Linked DNA regions of Homo sapiens. The protein of the gene in region 1 interacts with the protein of each later gene in a pairwise test. Each region holds a gene or a part of one and is shown on either strand. Other genes may lie near its edges. The genes, in order: ICAM5, AKAP9 and KRT222.

What was found.
Region 2: the proteins of ICAM5 (region 1) and AKAP9 interact in binary tests that used the Homo sapiens proteins (3 or more experiments, as listed by UniProt).
Region 3: the proteins of ICAM5 (region 1) and KRT222 interact in binary tests that used the Homo sapiens proteins (3 or more experiments, as listed by UniProt).

Annotation. Positions count from the first base shown.
Region 1 is NC_000019.10:10,292,811-10,296,561, reverse strand, and holds part of ICAM5 (intercellular adhesion molecule 5 precursor), read right to left. Parts: coding exon 3,696-3,751; intron 3,565-3,695; coding exon 3,316-3,564; intron 2,865-3,315; coding exon 2,619-2,864; intron 2,523-2,618; coding exon 2,244-2,522; intron 2,162-2,243; coding exon 1,922-2,161; intron 1,217-1,921; coding exon 950-1,216; intron 224-949; coding exon 1-223. UniProt on the Homo sapiens protein: ICAM proteins are ligands for the leukocyte adhesion protein LFA-1 (integrin alpha-L/beta-2).
Region 2 is NC_000007.14:92,104,854-92,108,604, forward strand, and holds part of AKAP9 (A-kinase anchor protein 9), read left to right. Parts: intron 1-824; coding exon 825-910; intron 911-2,439; coding exon 2,440-2,569; intron 2,570-3,640; coding exon 3,641-3,751. UniProt on the Homo sapiens protein: Scaffolding protein that assembles several protein kinases and phosphatases on the centrosome and Golgi apparatus. Required to maintain the integrity of the Golgi apparatus. Required for microtubule nucleation at the cis-side of the Golgi apparatus.
Region 3 is NC_000017.11:40,663,418-40,667,168, forward strand, and holds the start of KRT222 (keratin-like protein KRT222), read right to left. Parts: upstream 1,761-3,751; 5' UTR 1,683-1,760; coding exon 1,587-1,682; intron 1-1,586.

The DNA.
Region 1 (3,751 bases):
GCGCCCCCCGCCGCCTCGGGTCCGCCCTCCGCGCCTGCCGCCCCGCCAGCGCCGCCGCCCGCTCCGTTCAGACACACGGCCTCGCCTGAGCTCTCGGCCTCCTGCACGTTGTACTCGCCCTTCTTGCAGGCGGTGGACTGCACGTAGAAGGCCAGGCCGGCCCCCGCGGCCAGCAGCGCCGCGCCCCCCGCCGCGCCGCCCACGGCGACCCATAGCCACGGACCTGCGGGGTGGAGACCCTCGCGGAGGGTGGCCAAGCTCCGGGGGGCTTCTCCCACCGCCCCCCGCACTCCCACAGGCACGAAGTCAGTCCTCATGCCCCGGGGAGCTCACTGTCTGGCCTTGGGAGAAGGGAGACAACCCATGCAATAAGGCCACTCCCAGTGCCAGGGCGACCCGAGTCCCGATTTATATCGCACTTCAGCCCATGGGGATATAAACCCGTGACCACACTTAGCCCCCTGGCGACAAGTCAACTCTCCCCATCCCCCAAAAAATGAGGACCGGCAGGACCAGGTCAGGTTCCCCCGACCCCAGAGAGAACCCAGCCCCAGGAGCTTCAGGAAGTGAGAGAAGGCGATCTTGACCCCTCTCTCCCTCCAACATCCAATGACTTTGGTCCCTCCCCAATCTTCCCCACAGTGGATTGTGAATTGGGTCAAGTTTCCACCACGCAGAATCCAGCCCAAGTTTTAAAGTCCTTTCCTGCAGCAGTGACAGCCCCGGAGGGTCCCTCCCCTTGAATTCAGTCCCCCTGCCACCTCCATCTCCCACCCCTCAAAGTGCGATCAACAGCCCCACCCGCTAAGGCACCTTTGACTTCTACTCTGTCCCACTTCCGTCTAGTCTACCGGGACCGAGAGGGAGGCAGGCGGGGCCGGCCGCCCCAAGACCCAGGTCACGCCCCCTCTCAGATACCTCGCCCCGCCTCTCCCCAGCTGCCACTTACCGGCCACGCGCACCGTGATGCGCCGCGCGTGGCGCCCGTGCGCGTTGGTGGCTGCGCACTCGTACTCGCCGCCGTGGCTTCCCATGGCGCCTGCCACGCTCAGTGTGCTGTTGTTGCTCGACAGGCCGATGTTGAGGGCCCCCGGGGGCGCGCGCCAGCTGATCTGGGCTGGAGGCCAGGCCTCCGCGCGGCAGGTCAACGTGAAGTTTCCTCCTGGGCGCACGCCTCCAGGGGGCGAGGCAGCAAGTTCGGCCACCACTGGCCGGTCTGAAGGGCACAGAAGGTGAAGTGGGGCTTAGCGCCGGCCCAGCCACTGATCAAATGCCCTGCTCCGGCCCACAACGATCGATGGGAGACCACCGCGCCTCTGATGGGCAGAAGAGGATCCTGCCTCCTATCAGAGCCTCCTTCCCCGACAATCAGGCTGCTGTTGCGGCTAAAATTCCTCGCCCTTCTTCACCGAATGGAAGGAGGTGAAGCCCAGGTCAGTGTTCTAATCCAGGATTTGAGGAGGGCCGTGCTCCTATTCCCTATAATTTTCTTTTTCTGTTTTTCTAAGAAAGAGTCTCACTCTGTTGCCCAGGCTGGAGTGCAGTGGCGGGATCTCGGCTCCCTGCAACCTCTGCCTCCCAGGCTCAAGCGATTCTCCTGCCTCAGCCTCCCAAGTAGCTGGGACCACAGGCGCCCACCACCACGACCGGCTAATTTTTGTAGAGACGGGTTTTCGCCATGTTGGCCGGGCTGGTCTCGAACTCCTGGCCTCAAGTGATTCATCCGCCTCAACCTTCCAAAGTGTTGGGATTACAGACCTGAGCCACTGCGCCTGGCTAGAATTTTCATTACCCCCTGGTTTAGGCTGGAATTCCCTGTCCCCGAGAATGGGATTGGGAGAGGTGCCCTTGAATGCTCCCACCGCTGCGAGTCATTCTTCCGAGGACCGTGTCCCCTCCATCCGGTGCTGCCCCCACTCACATTCCACGCCCACAGTGACGGTCCGGGAGTCCGTGCCATGCGCATTGGTGGCCACACAGTGGTAAGTGCCCGCGTCCTCTCGGGACACGCGCTGCTGCTCAGGCCATGGGATGCCTTCCCGAGAGCAGCGCACTCCTGGGGAAGGGCGACCCCGGGCGGCGCAGGCCAGCGCGGAAGCCTCAGCCCCTTCCAGCCACGTCTGGTGACTTGGGCAGGTAGATTCATCCATCTCCGGTGGCGCTGCAAAGCAGCCATGGGGGATGTCAGGGAGTGCCTGGACCGTGGGGCACCCCTGCTCCCTACCCGCCTGGGCCTCGCTCACACTCCGCGCTCACGACGACTGTTTTGGCCACGGAGCCGTGGCGGTTGGTGGCGTTGCAGACGTAGATACCGGGTGCCAGGACTCTAGGGATTCTGGGAGCTCTGGGACTAGGGTCTGGGGGTGCCAGCGGCAGCAGCACCCCCTCAGTGGCGCCCCCGGAGCCCACGCACTTCACGCTTGGCTGTGGCTTCCCATCGACCTCACAGGAAAACAGGCGCCCAGATCCTTCCACCCATGTCCAATTGCTGGGGCAGCTCGGCTCCTCAAACCTGGGGCCATCTGGGAAACAGGATTGCAGGGGCTCACACGGGGGCCAGGAAGTCCAGCCGGGGTTGTCCCACAGATCCTGCCTAACTCCGCGGTGCCCCTACTCACATTCCACCGTGACGGCCACATTTTTGGCCGCAGAGCCCCGAGGGTTGGTGGCTTCGCAGCGGTAAGTGCCCGCATGCTCCCGGGCCACACGCAACAGCCCCTCGATGACGGCCCCGAGTTCTCCAGAGCGCACGCAGATCACATCAGGCGGCGGTACCCCGTGCGCCACACAGCTCAGCGAGGCTTCTGTTCCCTCCAGCCAAGTAATGCGTTCTGGGCAGCCCACGCTGTCCAGCGCTGGTGCGTCTGGAGGAGGGAGTGTATTGTTGGCTTTGGGGTTTGGGGGCAAATCTGACGTCCCTAGACCCTCCTTGGCGCGGCAAGGCTTCCACGAAGTGTTGTCCCTGCATAACCCTTGGACGCCGATCCAAGGAGGTGTCACGCTAGTCGAGGCATGCACTCTGTCTGGGAGCTTCCTGAGCCACCAGTGGCGCCTTTTTCGTCTAAAAACTTAAACACTCTGGACTGCCCGCCTTTCCACGACTCCGCCCAAATACCACGCCCTAGGCTAGGGGCACGCCCACCCGGTCCCTTCCATCCTCCAAGATCTTTCTCCAACCCCACTAACCAGCCTCTTCCCTTTCCCAAAACCTCACCCAAAGGGACACCTCATACCCTACTCCTACTCTTCCCTGGAGGCTGGCCACCCTCCAGACCTTGAACCAGATAGAAATGCACCCTGCGCACCCCCACTCACACTCCACCGTTAGCGTTACGTCCTTGACCGCCTCGCCTTGATCATTGGCCGCCTTGCAGCGGTAAGTGCCTGAGAGCGCCCGAGTGACTGGACCCAGCAGGCCCAGAGCCAGCACGGCCCCGCCGTCGGAGCGCGCACAGTGCACTGAGGGTTCTGGGTTCCCGCGGGCCTCGCAGCGCAGCGTCTGCTCTGGGCCCTCGGGCCACGTCCAACTCCTGGGGCAGTCCGAATCGTCTAGCCGGGGAGCGTCTGCGGGCAGGGCGTGGGGTTACAGAGGCTTAGACGTAAGAAATGGCTCCGCCTCCACGACACGGTGAGGGAGCAGGCGGGTCCTTGGAAGTCACCAGAAGGTGGGGGGCGAGGGGTTATCACCAACTCACATAGGACACGAAGCTCTGCGCTCCTGTTCTTGATCAGGGTCTCCCCGTCCACATCG
Region 2 (3,751 bases), on another chromosome or scaffold:
CCTAAAGGCAGCTCACTTTCTAGTGGGGAAGACTAATATGCACAGAACTTAGAATATAATAAGTAAATGGGAGGTCACAGGAGTTAGCTAGTAATTTTGATTAGAGGGATCTAGAGAGGCTTCATGAGAGCGGTGTAGAAGTTGTTATTGACATACTTCACTCTGCCCCACTTTTTCTTATCCAAGATTATGTTTATCATATTTTGACCCTCCTAAGATGGAGCCTTGGAACTGATTCAAAGTAAATCAAAACTGGTGCTCCAAAAGCTCCTTGGGCCAAGATGGGGAAGAAGGTCGTAACTTGCTGCACCTGGGTCATGAAGCTAACACTCCCATTCCTTTTGAAACCAACGTTTTTTTGTCCCTGATCAAAGGGACAAGAGCTTCACCCACCTTGCAGCATTCCCAGCACATTCTTATTGCCAATTTAAGGGTCTTTTTGTTCTCTTCTTATCTCATCTGCCCTTTATTCTCTGTTCTTTTCTCTTTTCATTACTTCTCACCCTTTCTTTGCCTATCTGCTTTTCCCATCTACTTTTGCCTTCCATCTCCTTATACCCCATTTATCCCTCAAGCTGGAACCTGATGCTGGCAATATAAGAGACCTCTAATGCCTCTTGGGAAGGGGATGAGGGGATTTTGAGTCCCTATTCTTCCGTTCCAGTTGATTTTGTCACAACAGGCATTGACATAGTTTAACTGGGCAATTGTGAAATTTGACATTTGTTCTATGTTCATATTTAAACGTGTGATGTGATTTTTGTAGGAAATGTATATACTGTTTATAGATGGGCTGTGAAATTTTATCTTGGAATCTTTTTTAGAATGAAATTTTTGGTTCGACGGTGGCATCGAGTCACAGGTTCTGTTTCCATCAATATTAACAGAGATGGCTTTGGACTGAATCAAGGTGAAGTCAAAATAGCATATTTTCTTATGTTTATGACTCTCTAAATCAGAGGTCCCCCACCCCCAGACTATGGACCATACTTGTCTGTGGCCTGTTAGGAACCAGGCCGCACAGCAGCAGGTGAGCAGCGGGCATTACTGCCCGAGCTCCACCTCCTGTCAGATCAGCCGTGGCATTAGATTCTCATAGGAGCACAAATCCTATTGTGAACTGCACATGTGAGGAATCTAGGTTGTGTGCTCCTTATGAGAATCTAACTAATGCCTGATTATCTGGGGTGGAACAGTTTCATCCAGAAACCATTCTGGCCCCTTTGGGTCCATGGAAAAATTGTCTTCCATGAAATGTGTCCCTGGTGCCAAAAAGGTTGGGGACTGCTGCTCTGAATTACTGCATGTGTAATACTTACCAAGTAATGAATTCTGGAAGCAATGTTTTCCAAAGACAAAGCCCTTATAACTGCCAAAACTAGGTAACTTCACTGTTTTAAAGAGGGTAATAATAACTGATTTTCATGGAGAACTTAGTCTGCACCTGGCCATGCTCTTTTCATGTATTCTCCCAATCCTATGATATAAGTACAGTTTTACTACTCTCACTTTTAGATGAAAAATCGAGGCATGGAAAACACAAGTCATTTGCCCCAGAATGGCCAGTAGGGAAGTGATGGAACCAGGACCAAACACTGGCAGTCTGGGTCCAGAGCCCACACTCTTCATAACTGCATTTAAGGCACGGTTCAAGACAGGATTGCTGTTAGTCATATGGAAGAATTAGGAAGTTTTCATAATTTAACAATATTCAAACAAGTTTCTGAGTTTACCAACAGGTTGTATAATAATGGTAACAGCTAAAATTCCTTCTGTCTACACCTAGAAGTGGAAACAAACTAGGGCTTGAACATTTCTGGCAATAAAGATGAGGTCCGAATCTGGGGAGCACACAGAGGACACAGCATCCCTGTGCTGTGTATTCATAGTAAACCACCTTTACATACTCTACCAGGAGCTGAGCATCCTACAGAGGGGAAATAGATTTGGTACCCTACACAAAGTATTTTGAAATATCATTACACTGAAACAGCTGAAATTTGTACCATAATAAGTTGTGTTTTATTAAAAGTTAGCAAATCTTGGTTTCAAGTCAGTAGATTGGAATGGTTACATTGGTCTAATATTTTTTATCCACATCATTTCCCACAAGCCACACCCACTCAGACACCCCTCACCTCTCATCTACTTAGAGCTAAGGTCTTTAAAGAAGAAAATATGCCAATTAAATAATTTTCTTTGAGACATAATTCCAGATATCAGAAATACTCATATTCAAAAGTAAACAAAATAACATTTGAAAGCCGAATTTTTGTTTGTACTGTTTTCTCCTTTATCAAGAATAATAGAAAATGACTATAAATAGGAGATTGTATAATATAGTATAATAGTCTTTTGAGCAGTTACCTATTTTGTAGAAATTTTTTAAGGTCTTGGGATTTTATTTTTCTTTACAAGGAATATTTTGGGTTACTTTAGGTGCAGAAAAGACTGACTCATTTTATCATTCTTCTGGTGGGCTGGAGTTATATGGAGAACCAAGACATACTACGTATCGCTCAAGATCAGATCTGGACTATATTAGGTCCCCTTTACCATTTCAGAATAGGTAAGAATATGAGAAAACCTGCCTGGAATTGTTAAATGTATTAATATTTAACAGAGATAAATGGACATTTTTAGGGCTTTGACTTCTTTGCATTGAGATAGACATCTTTGTTATATATAATTTACATAATATGACCAAGTGCGGTGGCTCACACCTATAATCCCAGCACTTTGGGAGGCTGAGGCGGGCAGATCATGAGGTCAGGAGTTCAAGACCAGCTAGTTGGAGACTAGCCTGGCCAACATGGTGAAACCCTGTCTCTACTAAAAATACAAAAAATTAGCCAGGCGTGGTGGCAGGCGCCTGTGGTCCCAGCTACTTGGGAGGCTGAGGCAGGAGAATGGTGTGAACCCGGGAGGCGGAGCTGGCAGTGAGCTGAGATTGTGCCACTGCACTCTGGCCTGGGCAACGGAGCGAGACTCTGTCTCAAAAAAAAATACAAAAAAATTAGCCAGGCATGGTGGTGGGTGCCTGTAATCCCAGCTACTCAGGAGGCTGAGGCAGGAGAATCGCTTGAACTCAGGAGGTGGAGGTTGCAGTGAGCCGAGGTCACGCCACTGCACTCTAGCCTGGGCAACAAAGCAAGATTTGGTCTCCAAAAAAAAAAAAAAAGAAAAAAAATATACATAACCTAAGGCTTAATGTAAAAATGTAAAAACCAGTGTTTAAATTTGTAACTGATTTCCAAGGGTATAGCAAACAAGCTGACCAAGTGTTATTTAGTGTATGCTATGGTTAGATATTGGGAAAAGTATTGACTAAAATTGATACTCTGATCATTATGAAAAGCTTAACAGTCTTCATGACAAGATACATTTATACATACCCAATTTATTGAGACCTCTGCCACAAGCATTGTATTGGACATTCTTATGTTGACTTAGTAGCATCTTTGAATTCATTGGAGAGTTGTCTCTTTCTCATCCCAAGCTCCAAAGCTGAAGCTTGGAGGAGATACATTATGTGTGTACAAGTGACCCACCTTTTTGGGGAAGGGAGTGGAGGCAGGTTGGTAACTTATATGCATATTTCTGGATAACTTGATTCATGTACATATTTTTAATCCTTTAGGTACCCAGGCACTCCAGCTGATTTCAATCCTGGTTCTTTAGCATGTTCTCAGCTTCAGAATTACGATCCTGACAGAGCCCTAACAGATTATATCACTCGGCTAGAGGCACT
Region 3 (3,751 bases), on another chromosome or scaffold:
AATATGCAAGAAGTCTGGATACCCTGCTGGAGAGATCCTGTAGAAAGGCCAGATGGAGAGAGACCCTGAGGCTACGTGAAGTGAGAGAGAAAGTCCCAGCAGAGCCAGCCTTTCGGCAATGCCCTGCCAAAGTGCCAGACACATAAGTGAGCCCAGTCATGCCCCAAGACGATTGAGGTCCCAGATGAGTTTTGGGGTGTTATACAACAATCTGTAACTAAAATAGCTTATTTAGAAATTTAAAAAAATAACTAATCAGGCTGTCTTGAATTTATTTCAGCTGACTTTCTGAGTTATTTGGAAGAAAATCCTCTAAAGTAGTTTCAAATTAAAAGACACTTTAAACAAAACTCACCGTAGTCTTGCTTTTTCATTTGAATTTACTCATTTTGGCCCTGTGACTTGTAAACTAAACTCATATTTCTACTACTGCAAAGTTAAGTGTTTTGTTTATGATTTTTAGAAGTTGTCATCTATTGATTTTTTTCTTCTGTTTGTAAAGGTGAATGAACTATCCCAATGCTTACCTGTACCAGTGACTTTGCTTAATCTAAGATGTTGATCATTCTTTATGAAGGCTGAAAATGTTATCTAGAGGTGAAATTTACAATGGAACTAAAAATGAGTGGCTAATGGAATAAAGGCCTGACATTTTTCTACCAATTTTTTTTTTTAAAATTTTGGGTGATATTCTTAAGTAAACTTTTTGCTGTATTTCAGGGTTTGGAAGATAACTTGAACCCATATATGATAGGTAAACTAAAAAATCCCCTAAATTTCTTAATCTTTGTTTCTAAAATATTTGTTTGTAAATTTGTTTAAAGACTTGAGACCTTAATTACTTGCTGAAGGTGATTGTTACTTTAAAACTAAGTCTATGAAATTAGGATTTAGTCCTTATCTAAGTAGGCTCTCTTTCTCTTTTTTAAATACTTAAATATTACAAGCTTTGTAATGGAAAGAAATGTTTCTCATCTTATAGTACAGAAGCAAAAATCTTAGTGGAGAATCGTTACCAATTTGGGGAATTTCAATGGTCATAATTTATATCATTGTTTCTGAATGCCATGTTCACACACTCAGATGATTTCTATTTATAACAATCTGGTATAAAATGGAACTCGTTAAAAAGATGATAGAAACCTTTTAGAAATATCTCTAGAAAGTGTACATGCTAATAAATCTTACTTAAAGATTTTTCATTTTAAAGATGTTATTTAAATTATCTCTGTAAATAACTCCAATAATATCTTTGAAGGGTATTTGGAATGGTTCCTTCCTGAAGATTGTAAGAGGTTAGAGTGCACCATTTTATGGTATGTTGACCCCATGTTAATGATAGGAACCTCACAATTTATATAAAAATCAAATGCATCAATCAACACTTACTTAATGGCAATTTAACAATATAATCACAGTATTTCCCCCTGTAGTCCCAGTCACACTGCAGTAGAAGCTAAATTCCTTCCCCAATAGATGCTGCATCGAAAAGGAAATACTGTACCTCAGAGAGGCCGGGACAGGAATTGGGTAGACATGGACTGTCTCCTTATTCTGGAAGGTGCCTGTCTGTATGAAATCATTACCTGGATCCTTGTTGAGAGCACCGTCTCTATCTGATTTCTGGTGAGGATCTTTTCATAGTTTGCCCTGATCTCATTGAGTAGCTGGGACAGTTCCATTCTTTTCCCATCCTCCACCTTGGCTAACTGAACCTTATCGATAGGATGAGTCGCTGCGGCAGTCTGCTCGGTCTGCGCGGAAGGCAGGGAGCCTCGCAGAGTTTTAAAGATGCAGAGCTCCTTTTTCGGAGGCCACGGAAATTCTCATCTTTCTAACTAATTATGCAAATACAGGGTAAACTCTTTGCTCCTATTGTTATTGGTATAGTAGAAATGTCAGATTCTTCATGAAGGAAAGGAAAATTTCAAAAACCTGTACTGGTTCCCTGTAAAAATTGAGCACTTTGAGGGGAGGGGGAGTTCATTTTTGTGAAAAGGAAATGGGGCATAACATAAGAAAATTGCCGGGCATGGTGGCTCATGCCTGTAATCCCAGCACTTTAGGAGGTTGAGGTGGGTGGATCACCTGAGGTCGGGAGTTCGAGATCAGCCTGGCCAACATGATGAAACCCTGTCTTTACTAAAAATACAAAAATTAGCTGGGCGTGGTGGTGGGTGCCTGTAATCCCAGCTACTCGGGAGGCTGAGGCAGGAGAATTGCTTGAACCCAGGAGGTGGAGGTTGCAGTGAGCCGAGATTGAGCCACTGCACTCCAGCCTGGGTGACAGAGTGAGACTCCATCTCCAAAAAAAAAAAAAAAAAAAAAAAAGAAAATTATATTTAGTTTTCTCAAAATGTTGCAGATAAGTGCTGGTAGACTATGAGAGTTGTGAGTTAACATTTCCAAAGTTTTAACAAGGATGAAGAAATAGACCTTTTGGTGTATTCACCAAAAGAACCCTTGAGTCCTTTGGAGGGTGTAGTCAGTGTACCATTCCATCCAATCGTTGCAATCACTTGAGCCCTTCGGAGGGTGTATTTGGCGTATCATTCCATCCAATCCTTGCAATCCCTGACATTTTCTAACCTGTAAAGATGAAAAGACTGAGGCCAGAGAGGTTGAGGCATCTTGCCCAAGGTTGCTCAGTGATGTATGACATCACTGGGACTGGCTCTTTGACAACTTGCTTGTGTTCCATGTATTACCCCTGCATATCTGCCTCTGCGTTCTCTCTCTCCCCTTCTAAATTCCTGGTTTAATCTTGCCAGCTGGTTGCTAGATGTGACAGAAATATGTCGTGAGAGTGGATCTATCATTATTGTTATTTGTGGAGTGGCTTTGGCTGAATTGTATCTGGAGCACAGTTCAGGAGATAATCAGACCTGGGTTCTAGCCCTTACAGGGCCTTTGCATGCATGTCCTGCTCTTTTAATTTCTGAATTAACTCACATCTGGCCAGGCCAGTCTATGCTGGGCATTCTCACAGCCCTCTCCAAACAAAGCTGTCCTACCCACAGCTCCTGGTGAGAGGAGAGGTTCCAGGTTATTTCTGACCCACCCCTCCCTACCTCCTGCACCTTCCCCATCAGTCACAACTTGATTATCTATAGATTGGTCAGAGACCTTTGGAGTAGGCTGAGACAGAAAGCTCTGACTAAAGAGAGTCATTAATGATTATCTAGGCCAAACTGATTCTCTTTCTTGGTAACTGGGACTGAGAAATATGAAGAGAATTAGGCTTGGGAGTGGAGGAGAGAGAAGAAAGCAATGAATTAAATTCCTAAATTAAATTCAGGGAGCAATGAATTAAATGCTTCCTGCTACTTTAGGTAGCTCCTGCTAATATCCGCCTGAAACACAGAGAGCTGAACTAGATTCCCTGGAGGGTCAGTCCTGGCAATCTGCATTTTAAATAGGTCTGCCAGCATTTCTTATGCACCCTAAATAAAGCAGCACTGTCCAGTGGAAATATAACACAAACCACAAATGCAAACCACAGATGTCCTTCCAAACTTTCTAGTAGCCATATCAAAAGATTGAAACAAAAAGAAGTGAAATTAATTTTACGACTATATTTTATTTAACTTGATATATCCAAAATGCAGCAACCCATATAAAATGTTAATGAGATCTTTTACATTATTCTTGATACTGTCTTTGAAATCCAAGTGTATTTTATACTTACATCGCATCTCAGCTTGGAACAGCCACATTTAAAGTGCTCAATAGCTGGGCACAGTGGCTCACC